Regions from separate parts of the Homo sapiens genome. Here all the other regions are linked to region 3. Evidence: fine-mapped expression QTL. A gene starts in region 3. Each other region holds a variant in brackets. All regions are shown on one strand. Distances are between the middles of the regions.

Region 1 (5,337 bases), 460 kb before region 3:
ACAGATGAGTGTAGCACAGATGTGTGCCCATGTGCACATACATTTGTGTGCGCACACAGCAGCCCAGCCTACAAAGCCCTCTAATCCTCCCCACAGAGGCAATAAAGAGAATGAACAAATCAGAGACCCGGTGTCATTGTGGACCTTGAGCAACAGTTGCTTGCATGCTTAGATTACTCATAAAAGTGGGGCTTTTGAAATTATCTTTGTCAACAGGACAGGTGCGATCTCCGTATCATTAGCGCATTACCCTGAAGTATCACTAGTCCACGCTGAGCATCCCTAACCCAAAAAATCTGAAATCCAAAATACTCCAAGAATCTCAAACTTTTTGAAGGCCAATATGATGCCACAAGGGGAAAATTCCACACCTGACCTCGTGAGGGGTTGCAGTCAAAATGCAGTAAAAACTTTGTTTCATGCACAAAATTATTGAAGATATTGTATAAAGTTACCTTCAGGCTATGTCTATAAGGCATATATGAAACATACATGAAATCTGTATTTAGATTTGGGTCCCATTCCCAAGGGATCATTACATATGCAAATATTCCAAAATCGGAAAACAATCTGAAATCTGAAACACTTCTGGTCCCAAGCACCACCTTGTTTTAGGTGCCCAGTACACGCGTCGTTATGAGAAGCAGCTCTCTGATCAGTAGGGCTTCAGGGTCTGTTTCCCAGTGCTGGGATTCCCGAGGAGGCTCTCAAGCTATTACAGATTTAGCTTCGCAAAGCAGAGGAAGGCCTCCATGAGGCTGAAGGATCAGTCCCACTAATTCCAATGAGCTTTTAAACAGGGAGATATTTTAAGCTTAACCTAGTGCTATCTGCAAAACAGGGATACATCAACAAAGACTTTTCTATTTTGACTGGAAATGTTTAAAACTTTTTTTTGTCTGTCTACTTATATGTGTAAAATGCATTTGTGTGTAAAATTATAAATGTAAGATGCATTTGTGTGTAAAATGTATAAAATGCATGTGTGCATATGAGATTCAGAGGCGCACACAGAGTCTATTTAGTTCTTGCGGCAGAGATCTCTTCTAATGGCTTCCCTGCAGGGTGACTAATTAATAAACTTTCCCCTAATTGAGTTCTGGCTGCCAGGTCCGCAGGGATTATTACTTATATGTAAGTAAACAAAATTTCCATTTTAAACAACCCTCCAAATCTCCTCATTATATTTTAAACAGTTATAAATTCACTGAAGTCAAGTGAGTCCCAGGCGGGGAGGCCGTGTGCATTCTGGCCGGGATCCTTTCCCCTCGGGAGGGAAGAGATGTCCCCCAGGTCTGCCGATCGCACGACCCCTGGACTCCTTCCCCTTCTTTGTTCTCATCCACTGAAACATTAGGAAGGACCTAACCGAGGTTTTGGAAACCATTCGTGGTATTTGCCCTTTCTTTTAACCTGAATGCATTATTTAAAAGCAATTCTCTTTCACAACTTAAAAATAGGAAGAAGATGAGCTGGCTATTAAATATTTAATAAGGGTGCAGGATTCCTTAGGTACTGATTTGGGGTGGATCACTGGGTTTAGGGAATGTCTTGGCCTAAACTTTTGTGGAATCTGAATTTCAAGTTCTTATATTTGAAGTCATTTAATGAACTGTTTCCTTGTTTTCAAGATTTCTCCCTACTTTCAGATTCCAAATCGAAAGCAGAACTGCAAAAAAGAAAAAAAGTACAAAACCGAAAACAGAGTTGTCCTCAGTTTGGTTTGAAACCTGGAAGGAGGAGAGATAATCCCATCTCCCAAGTTTTTCTGATCAGTGCCATTTGGGAGTCATTTGGCTCAAGGGTTAGATGTTTTGCGAGTCACTCTTTACTGAAAGTACAAGAAAGTCCTGCAGGCTCTGATGATGATGATTACTGACAGCTGCTTAAAAGAATAAACTAAACATTTGTCAGACTCTTACATTGACAGGGTGAAGACACTACCCAGGAGAAAACAGTGAGGGCAGGGTTCAAGGCCAACTCCCACACAGTCAGGAGAAATGTGGATGCAATTGTGCTGTCGATTTTAAAGGTCTGCATCTCCTCATCCCTATCCGATTTTAAAGGTCTGCATCTCCTCATCCCTATCCGATTTTAAAGGTCTGCATCTCCTCATCCCTATCCGATTTTAAAGGTCTGCATCTCCTCATCCCTATCCGATTTTAAAGGTCTGCATCTCCTCATCCCTATCCGAATGCGTTTCCTTCTTTAAGAACGTGATTCTAAACGGAAGCGCTCTACATGGTGTGAGCCTGTTACCAAGAATACATCTCCCGAGAGATTCCCGTTCACTATCCTCGGCTCCTCTCCAGTGAGACTTTGCTCACCATCATGGGCTGTCGAGAGAGCTGCCCTCAAGCTAATGGGCCACTTCCCTGGGGCGCCTCGCCCGCTGTAAGTGAGGACCAGAACCTCTCGGTTCTTCACAGCAGCCACTGGAGGCAGCTCAGGGCTGATTTTCAGAGCCATAAAAAGCAGCCCCAGTTAGAGGAACTCCAGCCCCAGCTGTGGATATTTTCATTCTGTCCTGGTGGTAGGGTAGGAACCAAGCCTCCAGGCCCAGTCAAAACTGAAGGAGAGGCCAGGTGCGGTGGCTCACGCCTGTAATCCCAACACTTTGGGAGGCTGAGGCGGGTGGATCACGAGGTCAGGAGTTCAAGACCATCCTGGCCAATATGGTGAAACTCCGTCTCTACTTAACGTACAAAAATTAGCCAGACATGGTGGTGGGCACCTGTATTCCCAGCTACTCAGGAGGCTGAGGCAGGAGAATCGCTTGAACTCGGGAGGCGGAGGTTGCAGTGAGCCGAGATCACGCCACTGTACTCCAGCCTGGGCAACAGAGTGAGTGAGACTTCATCTCAAACAAACAAAAAAACTAAAGGAGCAGGCAGAACAGGCAGCAGGAACCAGAAGAAACAAGAGACGCGTGCTGCAGCATGGGGGAGTCTCAAATGCATTAGGACACTACGTGAAAGAAGCCAGACACAAAAGGCCACATCTGGGCCACACGAGTCCATTCCCACGATATCCTGGATAAACGCAAAACCAGGACAACAATCAGATCCGTGGTT[G/T]CCAGGGGCTAGAGGTCAGGGGAAGGGACAAACGGCAAGAGGGAACTTTAGCCTTATGCTCTATTTTGATAATGGTGGTGGCTACATGACTGTATAGATTGGCCAAAACTCATCTAAAGACACATCAAAGTGATGTTTTGGTGAATGTACCTTATACTGCAATAAACCTGGATTTTAACAACAGTAACTAAAGAGTAGGAAGAGAGGCACCGAGGTGGGGGAAGGGAGGCGCTTTTGCCTGGGGACAGCAGAAGCCCGCAAAGAGCTCTCTCCCCAGGAGTACTGTTGTCCAGGTCTTTTGAGCCACGAGGAGGCTTAGGGGAAATCAGGGGGAGCCTGTCCATAGATCCCAGCTGGAAGTCTTTTTATTTTTATTTTCTGAGACAGAGCCTTGCTCTGTCACCCAGGCTGGAGTGCAGTGGCACGATCTGGGCTCACTGCAACCTCCGCCTCCTGGGTTCAAGCAATTCTCCTGCCTCAGACCCCCAACTAGCTGGGAGGTGTGTGCCACCACGCCCAGCTAATTTTTTTATTTTTAGTAGAGACGGGGTTTCTCCATGTTGGCCAGGCTGGTCTCAAACTGCTGACCTCAAGTGATCTAACCACCTTGGCCTTCCAAAGTGCTGGGATTACAGGTGTGAGCCACCACGCCTGGTCCTACTTGGATGTCTTCATTCTAGGCTTCATCTACAACAGCTTTGCGGACCATCTCTGCTTTACTCAATGAGCTTTACAATTTCCAGTCCAGGGTTAGACTCTTAACTCAGTTTTCTGATTGTTTTTCTGGCATCCAGTGTCTTTGAGACAATCATGCAGAAAGCGCTGGGAGCCAGTTGCCTGTGTATTGAAAGCCCGGCAGAGCGGGACATGGAGGAACCACGGAAGCCACTGCCCGGCCAGCCCAGCAGCCCCGTTACCCACAACCTGCCTTAGGAACCCAGTGAAATCAACAGACCACTTTGCCCCTGGTCCAAGATCCCCACTGGAGACATTCAGCTGATCTGGTGCTCAACTCTTTTGGGCATAGAGTAAACACTACTTCACAGAAGGCAGAGAATTGCACCCCAGCCCGGGCTGACTTTGGAAACACAGCCAAGAGGGGTCTGTAGGGGCACAGTGTTGGGTTCCTGGCAGGGCAGCTCACTCGAAGAGCAGGCACCGTACCTGGGTTTTGACAGTAAACCTTCACTGACGATTTGAGGGAGGCAGCCAGGGTCTGGGTAGTTATTCAAAAGTCTGATTTCTATGCTATTTTAAAAAACATGGTCCATACAGTGGCCTCGAGCTAATGATGATAACACACTGCCGGAGTGCTTTGGTGGATAAATGTTGGTCTTTCTTGAGGAGCATTTTTGAGGTCTGTGAACAAAAAGATACTGTCAGGCAGTTGTTTTCTTTTTGTAACTTTGACCTCTCACATTCTCATGGCAATGACATTTGTAAATTACCTTTACCAAAGCAAACTCCTTTCCCTGGACAGTTCAAAAGTGAACTTCAGCCCAGATACTATAATTATCTTGAATTACGAGTCACTGAACTGCATATTGTAGTCTATTAAGAAAAGTTTGGCTAGGCATGGTGGCTCATACCTTTCATCCCAACACTTTGGGAGATCAAGGCAAGAGGATCTCAAGACCGGGAGTTCTAGACCAGCCTGGGCAACATAGCAAGGTCCCATCTCTACAAAGATAACCAAATAAATAGCTAGGTGTGGTGGCATGAGCCTGTAGTCCCAAGCTACTTGGGAGACTGAGGCAGGAGGATCACTTGAGCCCAGGAGTTTGAGGCTGCAGTGAGCTGTGATCGTGCCACTGCACTGCAGCCTGGGTGACAGAGCAAGACCCTGTCTCTCTCTCTCTCTCTCTCTCTCTCACACACACACACACACACACACACACACACACACACACACACACACACACAAAGGTCATGGTTGCCCAAGGGATTTCTGGCTGGGGCCAGAGCCGCTAAGGAGGCAGGAGGGTGGAGTGGCCGACTTACTTCCCCCTTTCCCGCTCTTCTCCATCCGGTACTGGTAGATGTGCAGTGTGAAGAACACGTGTGAGTTGCGGTGGTCGTCCTCATCACAGTCCTGTTGGTGGCTCCTGCGGGAGGCAATGGCGGCATCCAGGAAAAAGGCAGCCTTCTCTGCGGTGGGGGCCCGCAGCTCGCTCTGGTTCTGCAGCTGGAAGACAGAAGCCAAGAGATGAGGCTGCAGGCTGAGGAGGGCTTGCTGTCACTCATGCCTGGGTGTCCCCAGCAC
Region 2 (5,337 bases), 360 kb before region 3:
AGAAAGGAGCCAGCCAGGAGGAGGACCCGTCGTGCTGAGGGACCGGCACGAGTCAAGGTGAGGAGAGTGGTGGAGTAAGGAGTAACCCATCTAGGGCTGTAGCATGGAAGAGGGGGTGATCATTTTCTTAAGATCACTCAAATGGTTATGCACAGAGCTGGGACTCAAACACCCAGGTCTTGACTTCTACTCGAGCACGCTTTCCATTCTGTGACATTGCCTCCCTGTCTTCCCAGGTCCCCTGTCATTAAGGATCTGGGTCCTCTGTTGGAAAGTGTCTGAGAGACAGACCTACCGCTGACAGGAGAACATGAGGACAGTATTGACATCAAGGCTATGGCCAGACGCTAAGCTAAGCACCATGCATTATCTCATTTAATTCTCGAAAAACCTAATGAGGTAAGCTTCGCGTGCATTTTACTGATGGAGAGAATAGAAGTCAAGCAATGACCAGCAGTAGCTCAAATGGAGGTAACAGCTCTGGGTTCTACTACATTCAGATGTTACCTAATCGCCACTCTTCCACTGACTCCTAGAGGAAGATACGAGAAAAAATGTCTAGGAGAGAAGCCAAGTCCTTCCTCTGGTCAGGAAAACTTGCAGAGGCATTTTTCACAGGTCATTCTCCAAATTTATTTTAATTTTCTTTTTTAAAAACCTTCATTATATAAATGTCTATTTTTTATTTTATTATTATTATTATTATTTTTGAGATGGAGTCTCACTTACTCTGTCGCCCAGGCTGGAATGCAGTGGAGGATCTTGGCTCACTGCAACTTCTTCCTTCTGGGTTCAAGCGATTCTCCTGCCTCAGCCTCCTGAGTAGCTGGGACTACAGACGCCCGCCACCATGCCTGGCTAACATTTTTGTATTTTTAGTAGAGACGGGGTTTTGCCATGTTGGCTAGGCCAGTCTTGAACTCCTGACCTCAAGTGATCCGCCCGCCTCGGACTCCCAAAGTGCTGGGATTACAGGTGTGAGCCACTGCGCCTGGACTTATTTTTTATTTTTTAACTGACAAGTGGAAGTTGTATATATTTATCATGTACAACACATTGTTTTAAAATATGTACACATTGTGGAATAGCTAGACTGAGCTAATTAACATATGTATTATCTTACATACTTTTTTATGGTGAGAACACTTACAATCTACTCTCTTAGCAGCAATTTTCAAGGACGCGATGCATTGTTATTAACGATATTTACATGTTTCTCCCCCGCAGTGTCTCCAGTGGAAGAAGTGGGAAGATGAGGTTCGGAAGGGGTGCATTCTTTCAGCGTGCCACAGGCTTTGCAGCAAAACTCACCAGGAGCTTGAGAGTTCTCTGCAGTGTAGATGAAATGAGGGAGGAATGGAGTTTACAGGGAGAAAAATGTGGGCCGATGTAACACTAAGGCCAATTAGCTCAGACAAAGGGCAAAAATGAGAGCTGGCAACCTGTCTAGTAAGAAACGTGAGCAAGGCCCTAATGCAGGTGCTGTTCCTCAGGGTCCAACAGCTGAAGGCCACGCTTGGTTTTTACAACATTTCTTGGGCTCCCAGCTTTTCAGAACAGCACCCGTTGTTAGAAAGACGGCTGTCCAGAGAGAGAACATACCAGCATAGTGGGATCGTTGAGCAAAGCAAGAACACTGGCGGTGGATCTCAAGCAAAGCTTTCTGGCAGAACATCGGGCCGAAATGAAAGCTTCGTTCCATGTGTAAGGCACTGATCAGTTTAAGACTTTTCTTCACCATCTGCCCTTATCAGTTTTGACCTGCTAGGTGCTTCACAGAACTTTGCTTGAAACTTTAGAGACAACCCACCTGTCTCTCTCGCTGTCTCTTTCTCTCCTTTCTTTCACCTTGACTCTAGTATTTTTTTTTAATTGCTCAGCAGTTTTCCCGATGTCAATCAGCTGCCTCTCTCAAAGACCATGTGCAGGTATCAGCATATCTGGTCTCTTTGCTCATTCACTGCTAAAAAGCACTCTCGGTCCTCCACGAAAACACGTGAGATTCTAGAGGGGGCGGCGGGGTTGGGGGGGGGTGCAGGTTGGAGCTGTCCACCAGGGGCAGTTGAGAGGCACAAGCTGTGGGGGTGGAGGAGGGTGTGGAGGAGGGTGGGGTTGCTTCCTCTGT[T/G]AGTGAGCAGAAACTCGAAAGATGGTTTCTTTTTGCCTTTTCTTTTCTATTTCTGGAGCAAGCTTTCTCCTTTGCTCAAAATCCAGGGGCATGATGAAAGACTGTCTGTCTCCCCTAACCCAGGAAGGCTATAACTGGTATCTGCTTTAACAGGGAACCCAAAACAAGGATGAGAACTGGAATTTGGGTAAGAAAATTATTCTGTTTTTAGTCATTGTTTTTTAATGATTTTCCTTTCCCCGGCATGATTTTTGCTCTAGGTTTTCCACTCTGCTTCAAGCCTCTTCCAGATGCAGGAGTCTAACAGAGTCCACATAAACAAGAAACCAAAACAAAACGGCACAAGATCGAAAGCTTTCCCCTTGTGATACAACCACTTTATGTGCAGAGAGGCGCTCACATGATGCTGCCAACATGTGTTTTCTGTCTCAGATTTCCCTTGATAACAAAGGACATATTTTAGAAGGCGTGGCCCTAGGTGCATTTGGCCAGCAGGAATCCGAGTGGAGTTTGGGGATTTCATTTGGGTTTAGGCTGATCCCCTCGGGTGCCCAGTGCTACAGCCCTTGATGATGTTAAACCCCAATTAATAAAGTTGTTAGGAACACTTTGGGTCAGGTTTGTAAGATATGATCTCATTCTACTGCTCACAGAACTGATTTAATATTCAGGAATCAACTAAGCTCATTCATTTCCAAAATTGGCAGCCCTGCATGTTGCTTCACAGTACTCCCTCTGTCCAAGGCTGGGCAGGGTATGTTAAAAGGAAATCTGCAGAAGAGTCTTTCATGATGTTCCAAGACTCAGAGAGAAGGATGGGGGCTGGGAAACAGGCAGGGTGGACAGGTGGGAGGGACAGTAGCTCTGCCTGAGGTATGAATGTGATAGACAGAGAAAGGCAATGATAGCTCAGAAAAACTCACGACTCTTATTGTTAGAAATCCCACTTCCAAATCTATGCAAGTTTTAAGAAGCCAGAAATAGCTGCATTAACATTACCGTATGGACTTTTTTTAAAAAGTTGCAAATGACCATAAAAAATATCAGCCATCTCTTTTGATGACCTTACCTAAGTGATTTATGATCTTAAAAGCCTCCTCTAAATACTGCTTTTTAATCAAGAAAGCTTATGTTACTCTTCCTACACAAAATTAACCTCACTTCAGATTTTGAAGAAAAGGCAGATCATATTTTTAAATTTCAATTTTTCATCTTTTAAATAGCCGTTCCTTTCTCTTGTGAAATAAACTGATTTTGGTCTTCAAGTGACTTGTTTTTCCTCCCTGAATACTTAGGAATTGAAGTGCTTAAACGAAGCCCTCACACAGAAAGATGGAAAAGTCTCTGACTGGTATAAACTAGCAATGACTAGCTTTCCACTAGACAGTGGCCTGCAACCCAAGAGTGACCAGACATTGTACTCTAGAATAGGGAGATGTCCGACCTCAAGAAAAGTTGAAATGGACAGGAAACATAGTCAACATTTGACATTAGTTAAAAAACAAAACCAAACAAACAAACAAACAAACAAAAACCCTCACATTTACGCAGCCAGAAAGAACCTGCTCTGAAAGCCACAGGCTAACTTCATTTTTATGATCCTGTAAAGAGAATACATTTTAGTTCTTTGATTCTAATATGAGCCAATGTCAAATATTTTAGCAACTCTGAATAAGCCTGATTATAGCAATGACTGTCAGTTCAGAAACCTTCTTCATTTATTACCCATTTCATTCCCATCCTCCGGAGGATGTTTGTAGCTTCTATGTCGGTAGTTTGTGTGTCTCTTCTGATAGAACTAGGTATTCTGCAAGTCCATTGAACAAGAAGAAAGCTTGCACAACCTGGACCCTCCTAACTTCTTTGAAATGGTTTATGCATTTTATTTTTACTTTTCTCAAAAGGAAACTGAAAAAGTTAAAGTAAAAAAAAAATAGCAAGAAAACAGACCACCTAACTCCAGCAACATATATAACTGCGTTACTTACACTGCTTTCCAATCCATCATCATTGATAAGTCATGGCTAAATAATCAAGTGCAGAATCCATTTCTTCACGTCTGCTAATAAATAGCTTCTCTCAAATGTCTCTTGCAGATCTGGGGCCATCTCAGGAGAAAGTAAAATTGTGCGAAGGTGAAGGAGGAAAGGCTGGAAAATTCTAAAATCCATGGGGGTCTGAGAACTCTCAGAGCAGACCCTGGTGAAACATTCTTGTGATTCCAGCCTTTGGCTAAACCATGATCCTGGCCTCACTGAGCTCCCAGCCACCTTCCCAGTGCAGCTCAGCCCCTGCTCCAACATTGCATTTCCCTCCAAGAACAGTGCATGGATGGGAGAGGAGCTCACACAATCCTGCCAATCCGCACATGCAAGCACGCTTCTCAAAGGAAGCTGCACCAGTTTCACTCTGGTGTCTGCTATCTCAGAGAGAGAGAGGGAGGGAGGGAGGGAGGGGCAGAGGCAGGCAGGCAGGGAGGGGTGAAACAGGGAGAGAGGGGAAGAGAGAGAGAGAGAGAGAGAGAGAGAGAGAGAGAGAGAAGCTCTGCTAAAAGAGACAGCCGAGAAAGAAATACTTGCTACAACTCCAATTAACCCACAGTAGCTTAGGGTTCTTGGCACAGCAGCTGCAAAATATACTGTCAAAATCAAGTGTTTAAAATCTTTAATTGTACATCCCTGTACACATTTAGCCACGTATGTGCAGACAAAGCTGATGGAACCCAGGTTTTGTATATGTCTGTGACTCTGCAAGGGAACACTTGTAGACAAACAGATGCAGATATATATCCCCATGAGAATAACATCTGCATGCACGTTTCATTTTCTAAGTGAAATTGTCTAGTCTCACAGTTTGCACGCCTTAAAACTATTCCAATGCTCTCAGTAATGAAAGTGCAAACCCAACAAACAGCCCTTTGCCTCTGACCCCATCTCATCTCTGATCGTGTTTTCCTCAGTTTGGTCTGGGTTCCTGTTTCTTTTTCCCTGCCTCAGGAAAGAAACCCCCAAAAGAGAAGAAGGTAGAGAGGCGAGGCAGGAGCTTTCAGTGTGACTGTCAACTTCGCATGCCCCACTCCACTGTTCATGGCACTGCAGCCCAGGACCCTCCACAGACCCAGCCAAAGCCCAGATGATGCCCAAGGGAGGGCGTGGCATGGAGCAGAGACATGAGACCCACAGACGGGGCTCTGTAATAGCACAGGAACCGGT
Region 3 (5,337 bases):
ACAGTATTTCATTTCTAAAGTCACGGAAATAATAAACCAGAAATTGACGTTGAACCAACAGTGTCAAAAACCTCTACAGCAATCCACTCTATTTCCTTGATATTGCTCTCTAACCACTGATAAAAACTCTTTGAAGTGGCCGAGTAAATATGATCATTTGATAGTACTTGGACCCAACAGTGCAAATACAATCGCATTGCTATCCCCTGGGGGCTCGGGCCAGTCACACACTGCGGGCAGGGTTGCTATGGAGGAACCAGTGTGCTTGGCGCAGGAGCAGGCCAGGAGGGAGCACTGCTCCGAAGAGCCACCCGCCTCCGGATCTTCCTCAGACACACACACAGACTGAGAAGGGGAAAATGCTGGCTTTCGAGTATGTTTCTGTTTCTGCAACCGCGGAAAGGATGGACCACAAACAGGCAGTGGGAAATGCCAGCTCCGAGCATCAGCTTGCTTTTACAGCTCCCGCTGACATTTTTGTAAAGGATCACAGGTGGGGGTGGGGAGAAACATCGAAAGCGCAGCCTGCAGCCGCCAGGGAGAGCTGGGAGGGGGCGGCAGGAGAGACCACCTGGGGGCCTCCCCCGTGGGCCGTGAGGCCTGTGGCCACGGGCGCCCCTTCGCGCTCGGGACTCGGTCCTCCTGCCCCCCGGGCGGCCTGGCTGAGGAAGGGGCATGGGTCGCCCCGCGTGCTAGAGCCCCGTGAGGTGTGGAGCATCCCCAGCGCCGCCGGGGGCTCTCGCGTGGAGCCGGCGCGCAAGGTCGCGGCGGGCTGAGCAGCTGCTGTGGGTGGCGGCCCGGCCCCGCCCTCCCGGCGCCTCCCCAGCCAGCCCCGCGCGGCGCTCACCTTGCCCGGGAAGGGCCCCGGGAGGAGCAACCTCAGGGCCTGCCTCTTGAGCTCCACCAGGCGGGCGTTGCAGTTCTCGCACCAGACGCCGCGGTCCGAGCCGGGGGAGGAGCCGCCGCCGCTGCCGGAGCCCGGGGAGCCTGTGCCGAAGCCCGGAGAGCCGCCCAAGGAGCCCGGCGAACTAGTGCCGATGCCGGGGGAGGCGGGTCCCGGGGAGCCGGTGAACGAGCTCGGGGACGAGGTGCCCGAGCCGGGAGACGGGGTCCCCGAGGAGCCGAGCGCTGAGCCCGCGCCCTCAGGAGTGGGCCGGCTGCCGGCGCGCGACTCCTCGTATGCTTTCCGGTACCAGCTTTCCGGGGAGAAGGGCGCTGCGGGCTTGGTGGGCGAGCAGACTTCATTCACCTGCGGGGAAGACACGCCGGTGTCAGGGGCTGCAAGGCGGCGGGCTGCAGCGCCCAGGAGCTGGGTCATACGTGCGCCACCAAGTACCCGCTCGAACCGCCCACGGGAGTCGGTTGGGGACCTCTCCAAGCCCTGCGGCCAAATTGCCCTCCGTCTGTCTCGTTAATTGTCCTTAAGTGAGTCCCCACCGCCCAGGTGACCCCTGCGCTGGTCCCCGGTGGCCTCCTCCTGGGGTCAGGAAGGGGACTCGCTCGGGGCCGTTTCCACGGCTTCTGCAAGGCGGGGGGGATCCATAGGTTCAGCGCCCCACGCTTTTGAAGCCGGCACCTATCCCAGCAAGATCCCGGGAACAAAATCCTGGAAGACCCTATGGGGGGGGTAGGGGGAGGGCTGTGATTTCAGGATTTTTATTCATACGGGGTCCAACTCTCCGGATCCTGCAGGTAAACGAGAGGCTCTCACGGCTCCAGCTAAACGATCCGAGGTACTGCCCAGCATTCATGGGAAACCCTCCCCTTCGGCTTCACTCTGCCTAGAAGTGCAGGAATGCGGCAAAAGTTACGGGTGCGTGGAAAGGAAGGAACGAGAGGGCTGAAAAAATTCCGAGAGCGAGGCGAGCGTGCGGGCGTCCCCGCGGCCGACCCGCCTCCGCGCACTCACAACCCCGCCAGCCCCGGGGGCGCCTCTGCAGCGGGGGAGAGCTCGGGGCCGGGGCCGCACGATCCCGGGGAAAGGGGGACCTCCGCCGAGATGGGTCTGGTAACGCGTCTCCGCGTCGTACCGTCACAACTTACCCCGTATTTCTTGCCCCTGGTGGAGACCGCAAGCCTCTCTTTATTCCCAGCTACCGAATTCATGGTGGCTTTTCCAGAGGAGAGTATCTAAAGGTTCCACCGACGCTACATCCAGAAGGTCCTCCAACCCAGAAGCGTCCCCCGGCTGCAGGGGGCTGGCTCTCAGCCCTCAGGGCAAGGTTTCTTCAGCGGTGGGGTGGGAGGGAATGAAAGCAAATGGATCCCACAAGTAATAGCACCAATTTGCAGAAAGGGTTGGGGTCGCTGGTTTATTCTTCTCTTCAAAGCATGCTTTTCCTCGTCCCCTTCTGCCTCTTCCAGCCGCACGTCCTCTTGTCACGGCCACATCCACAGAACTGGCATTTTCTTCAGCCAAGTCAGTCCGTGCTCCCCCACGAGGAAAGCGAGGGATACAATCAGGGCTCGCGGCCGCTGCCGGGAAGGTGGGAGAGCCGAGCCGAGTCAGCTGTGGGAACTTGTCTCCTTCACCGAGCTTGGTAACTGAGTTCAAAGAAATTCTCCCAAAATATAAAGATCCAGACTCGGGGAGGAGCCTCGGCGTGTCGCCGAGCCAATATCCGCCGGCCCGTTTCGCCTGACAGTTGCGCGAGGGCCGGGAGAGGGGCGGCTCCGCGTGGCCCGGGAGCGGTCGGCGGTCACAGCGCGCGTGTGCGCCCGGGCGCAGCGCGGAGGAGCCTCGGGAACCTGCCGCCCTCGCCGCGCCGGCCGGGATCCATTTTATGTGGCGGCGCTCGTGCCTGACATTGCGAGGCCTGGAGCCGGGCTGGGGCTGGGGGCGGGGGATCGTCGATCTCGCCGCGTGCGGGGAAGTTCCTGGCGCGCGGCCCGGGCCCGGGGCTCTAATGAAACGCCGCTGCGCGAGCCTGGAGCCCGGGGGCCGCGCGAGCGAGCGTGGCTGGACGGAAATGCGGTGCCCCAGCCTCCCCCGCCCCCAAGTTCTTTCTCTTCCTGACAAGGCTTGCAGGTCTGTCTGTGAAACGCCGTGCAAAAGGGATTGAGTCACAAACAAGTCCACAAACATGCCGGGTCCTCCCCCCGCCCTTTGTTCTCGGAGAGCTGCCGGGCAAACCTTTTCTGGAATTGCCCTACCGACCCCGGGCCGGCCGGGGGGCCACCCTCCCCGACCGCAGCCGCAGGACTAGGGCCCTTGGTCCCCCGCCCGCCCGAGCCCCGGTCTGTGATGGACTAAGCCGCCCGGGGCTGGGACAGGTGAGCCTGGTGACCCAGCGGGCCGCTGCCGGGCAGGGGAAACTGAGGGCTTCGCCGCGCTGCACGCGGACGACTCTGGCCTGGAGAGGGGGTGTGGCGCGAGCTGGCCTTGGCCTCTCCTTGCGTGGGATCGGGCCCCTCGCCCCCCGCCGCCCGTTTCTTCCTGCGCCTGGGCCCCGCGGGGTCTCCGGAGCACCCCGTCATCGCTCCCTCTCCGATCGCCCCCCGCCCCAGTCCCCCGGCGCAGCGCCCAGGAGCGCAGGAAGCCGGCGTATGCCAGGCTCCACACGTGGCTGCTCTGGGGTGTCATTTTTCATTTCACGGGAGGACATTTCTTCTGGTGAGCCAGCAGGTCTGTTTTGTTGTGACCTTTAATTAACACCCCGCGAGACGCCTCTGGAAGGACTGGCCGGGCGCAGGGATCACGTGGGGTGTAACGGCATCTCCGCGCCCGCGGGGAGACCCAGCCCGGGGGTGGGCGAGGGCGCGAAGGACGTTCAGGGCTTTCTGGTCGCTGACTTCCTTCTGAGCTGTGGACGACGCAGGAGGGGGCAAGAAGACAAAGGTTCGGGGTTCTGGAAGCCTGGGGCCACGCCCCCACTCTGCCTTCCTCGGGGACAATTTCTTCTGTGCCTCCCGTGCTCTGCCCCACTCCTCCCCGCTCCAGCTCCTGCGCGGGAATATTTCACAGCCACCAAAGCGAGGTAAAAAGGTCAAAAGGAAGATGGCAAGAACAGAGTGGACGTTTCCGTTACGTTCCCACTTCCAATTTAAAAGCGATCCTATCAATAGGGGACCTTAGGGGGCAGGTACACCTCCAGGCAGCACGCGCCAGCTCCCACCCGCATCTGTATTTCGCGTAGGTGCCGCGAAACACATCATCGCCATTGGCCACGAGCCGCTTATCAGCCAAAAAGCAGCGTGTGGTGAAACGAGCCGGCGAGGCCGCGGGTGGGGAAGGTGGGGTGTCGAGGGGGAGTGTTGGGGAGCTGCGCGATCCACCTCGGAGACGGGGGAGCCCAGAGCTGCTCTGATTTGCATTTCTAAGTAGCTGGGGGCCCAAAGCGTGTTTGGTGGGCTCCGAGCGCCCTCTGTTGATTAAAGTTTATAACCGGAGGCTCTGCAAGAGTTTTTAAGAAGCTTTCAAAAATTGATGTTTATGTAAAATGTATATACATAAGATGAAACGCACACATTTTAATTGTTAAGTTCTATGAATTTTGACAAACGTGTACTCTGCGTAGGCCACCACCTCGATCAACATCTATAAATTCCTGTCCCTCTTGAAGGTTATCTACCTTTTCCCAGGCAATCCCCACCTCTCATAAGAAACTACTGTTCTGATTTCTATCAGCATGGGTTAGTGTGGACTGATCTGGAAGGGTTTTTAATTCATAGAATCCGTACAGCATGTACTCTTTTGGGTTTGGCTTTTTTCACTTAACACAGGTTTTTGAGTTTCATGTTGTTGCTAGTATGGGTCTGTTTTCTATCTCTACTCTCTTTCATTCTTCTGTCTCTCATGCCTTTTTTTGTTAATTGAATAACTTTTCAGTATTCCAGTTTCATCTCTCTGTTGACTTTTTAGCTCTGATGATTATAATATGGATTTTTTTTTTGAGGCAGGGGCTCACTCTGTTGCCTGGGCTAGAGTGCAGTGGCGCTATTATGGCACACGGCAGCCTCCATCTCCCAGGCTCAAATGATCCTCTCTCCTCAGCCTCCCTAGTAGCTGGGACTACAGGTGCACACCACCACACCTGGCTAATTTTTTTTTTTTTTAAGTAGAGACAAGGTTTCCCTGTGTTGCCCAGGCTGGTCTCAAACTCCTGAGCTCAAGCTGTCTTCCCGCCTCCGCCTTCCAAAGTGCTGGGATTATGGCATGAAACCACCATACCTGGCCTATAATATGAATCTTTAACATTTCATAGGCTACTTAGAATTAACATTGTGCCGCTTCACCTAAAATGTAGACTTGCAACCTCTCCATCTTACCTTCCTCCTTTGTGCTACTAATTTGATATATTTTACATCTACATGCATTATAAAATCCACAAAACAATT

Alleles and levels. Alleles are on the strand shown, and positions count from the first base shown. SD is a standard deviation of normalised expression in the study named. Not every link is listed here.
With allele T in place of G in region 1, the expression in sigmoid colon of the gene that starts at base 2,546 in region 3 is lower (small effect, 0.28 SD a copy in GTEx).

Evidence for each region. PIP is the estimated chance that this variant, and not a neighbour inherited with it, causes the effect.
Region 1: its variant is the best candidate, but not a certain one, in a credible set for the expression of KIF26B in sigmoid colon (GTEx, PIP 0.76).
Region 2: its variant is the best candidate, but not a certain one, in a credible set for the expression of KIF26B in blood mononuclear cells (TOPMed, PIP 0.58).

The regions. Positions count from the first base shown.
Region 1 is chr1:245,611,715-245,617,051 of GRCh38, reverse strand. It overlaps KIF26B (kinesin family member 26B), which reads right to left. Exons shown (of 15, transcript NM_018012.4): 9 at 5,076-5,259. Among named protein-coding and RNA genes, the nearest start is that of KIF26B-AS1, 380 kb to the right of the region's middle. RefSeq lists enhancers at 4,633-5,133, 5,134-5,337. The variant G/T (reference allele first, on the strand shown) is at 3,075.
Region 2 is chr1:245,509,905-245,515,241 of GRCh38, reverse strand. The region is part of intron 4 of KIF26B (kinesin family member 26B); the gene reads right to left. Among named protein-coding and RNA genes, the nearest start is that of KIF26B-AS1, 280 kb to the right of the region's middle. The variant T/G (reference allele first, on the strand shown) is at 2,126.
Region 3 is chr1:245,152,194-245,157,530 of GRCh38, reverse strand. It overlaps KIF26B (kinesin family member 26B), which reads right to left and starts at 2,546. Exons shown (of 15, transcript NM_018012.4): 1 at 2,044-2,546; 2 at 848-1,249. The coding sequence starts at 2,106. RefSeq lists silencers at 598-1,137, 3,005-3,204 and enhancers at 3,059-3,734, 3,735-4,410.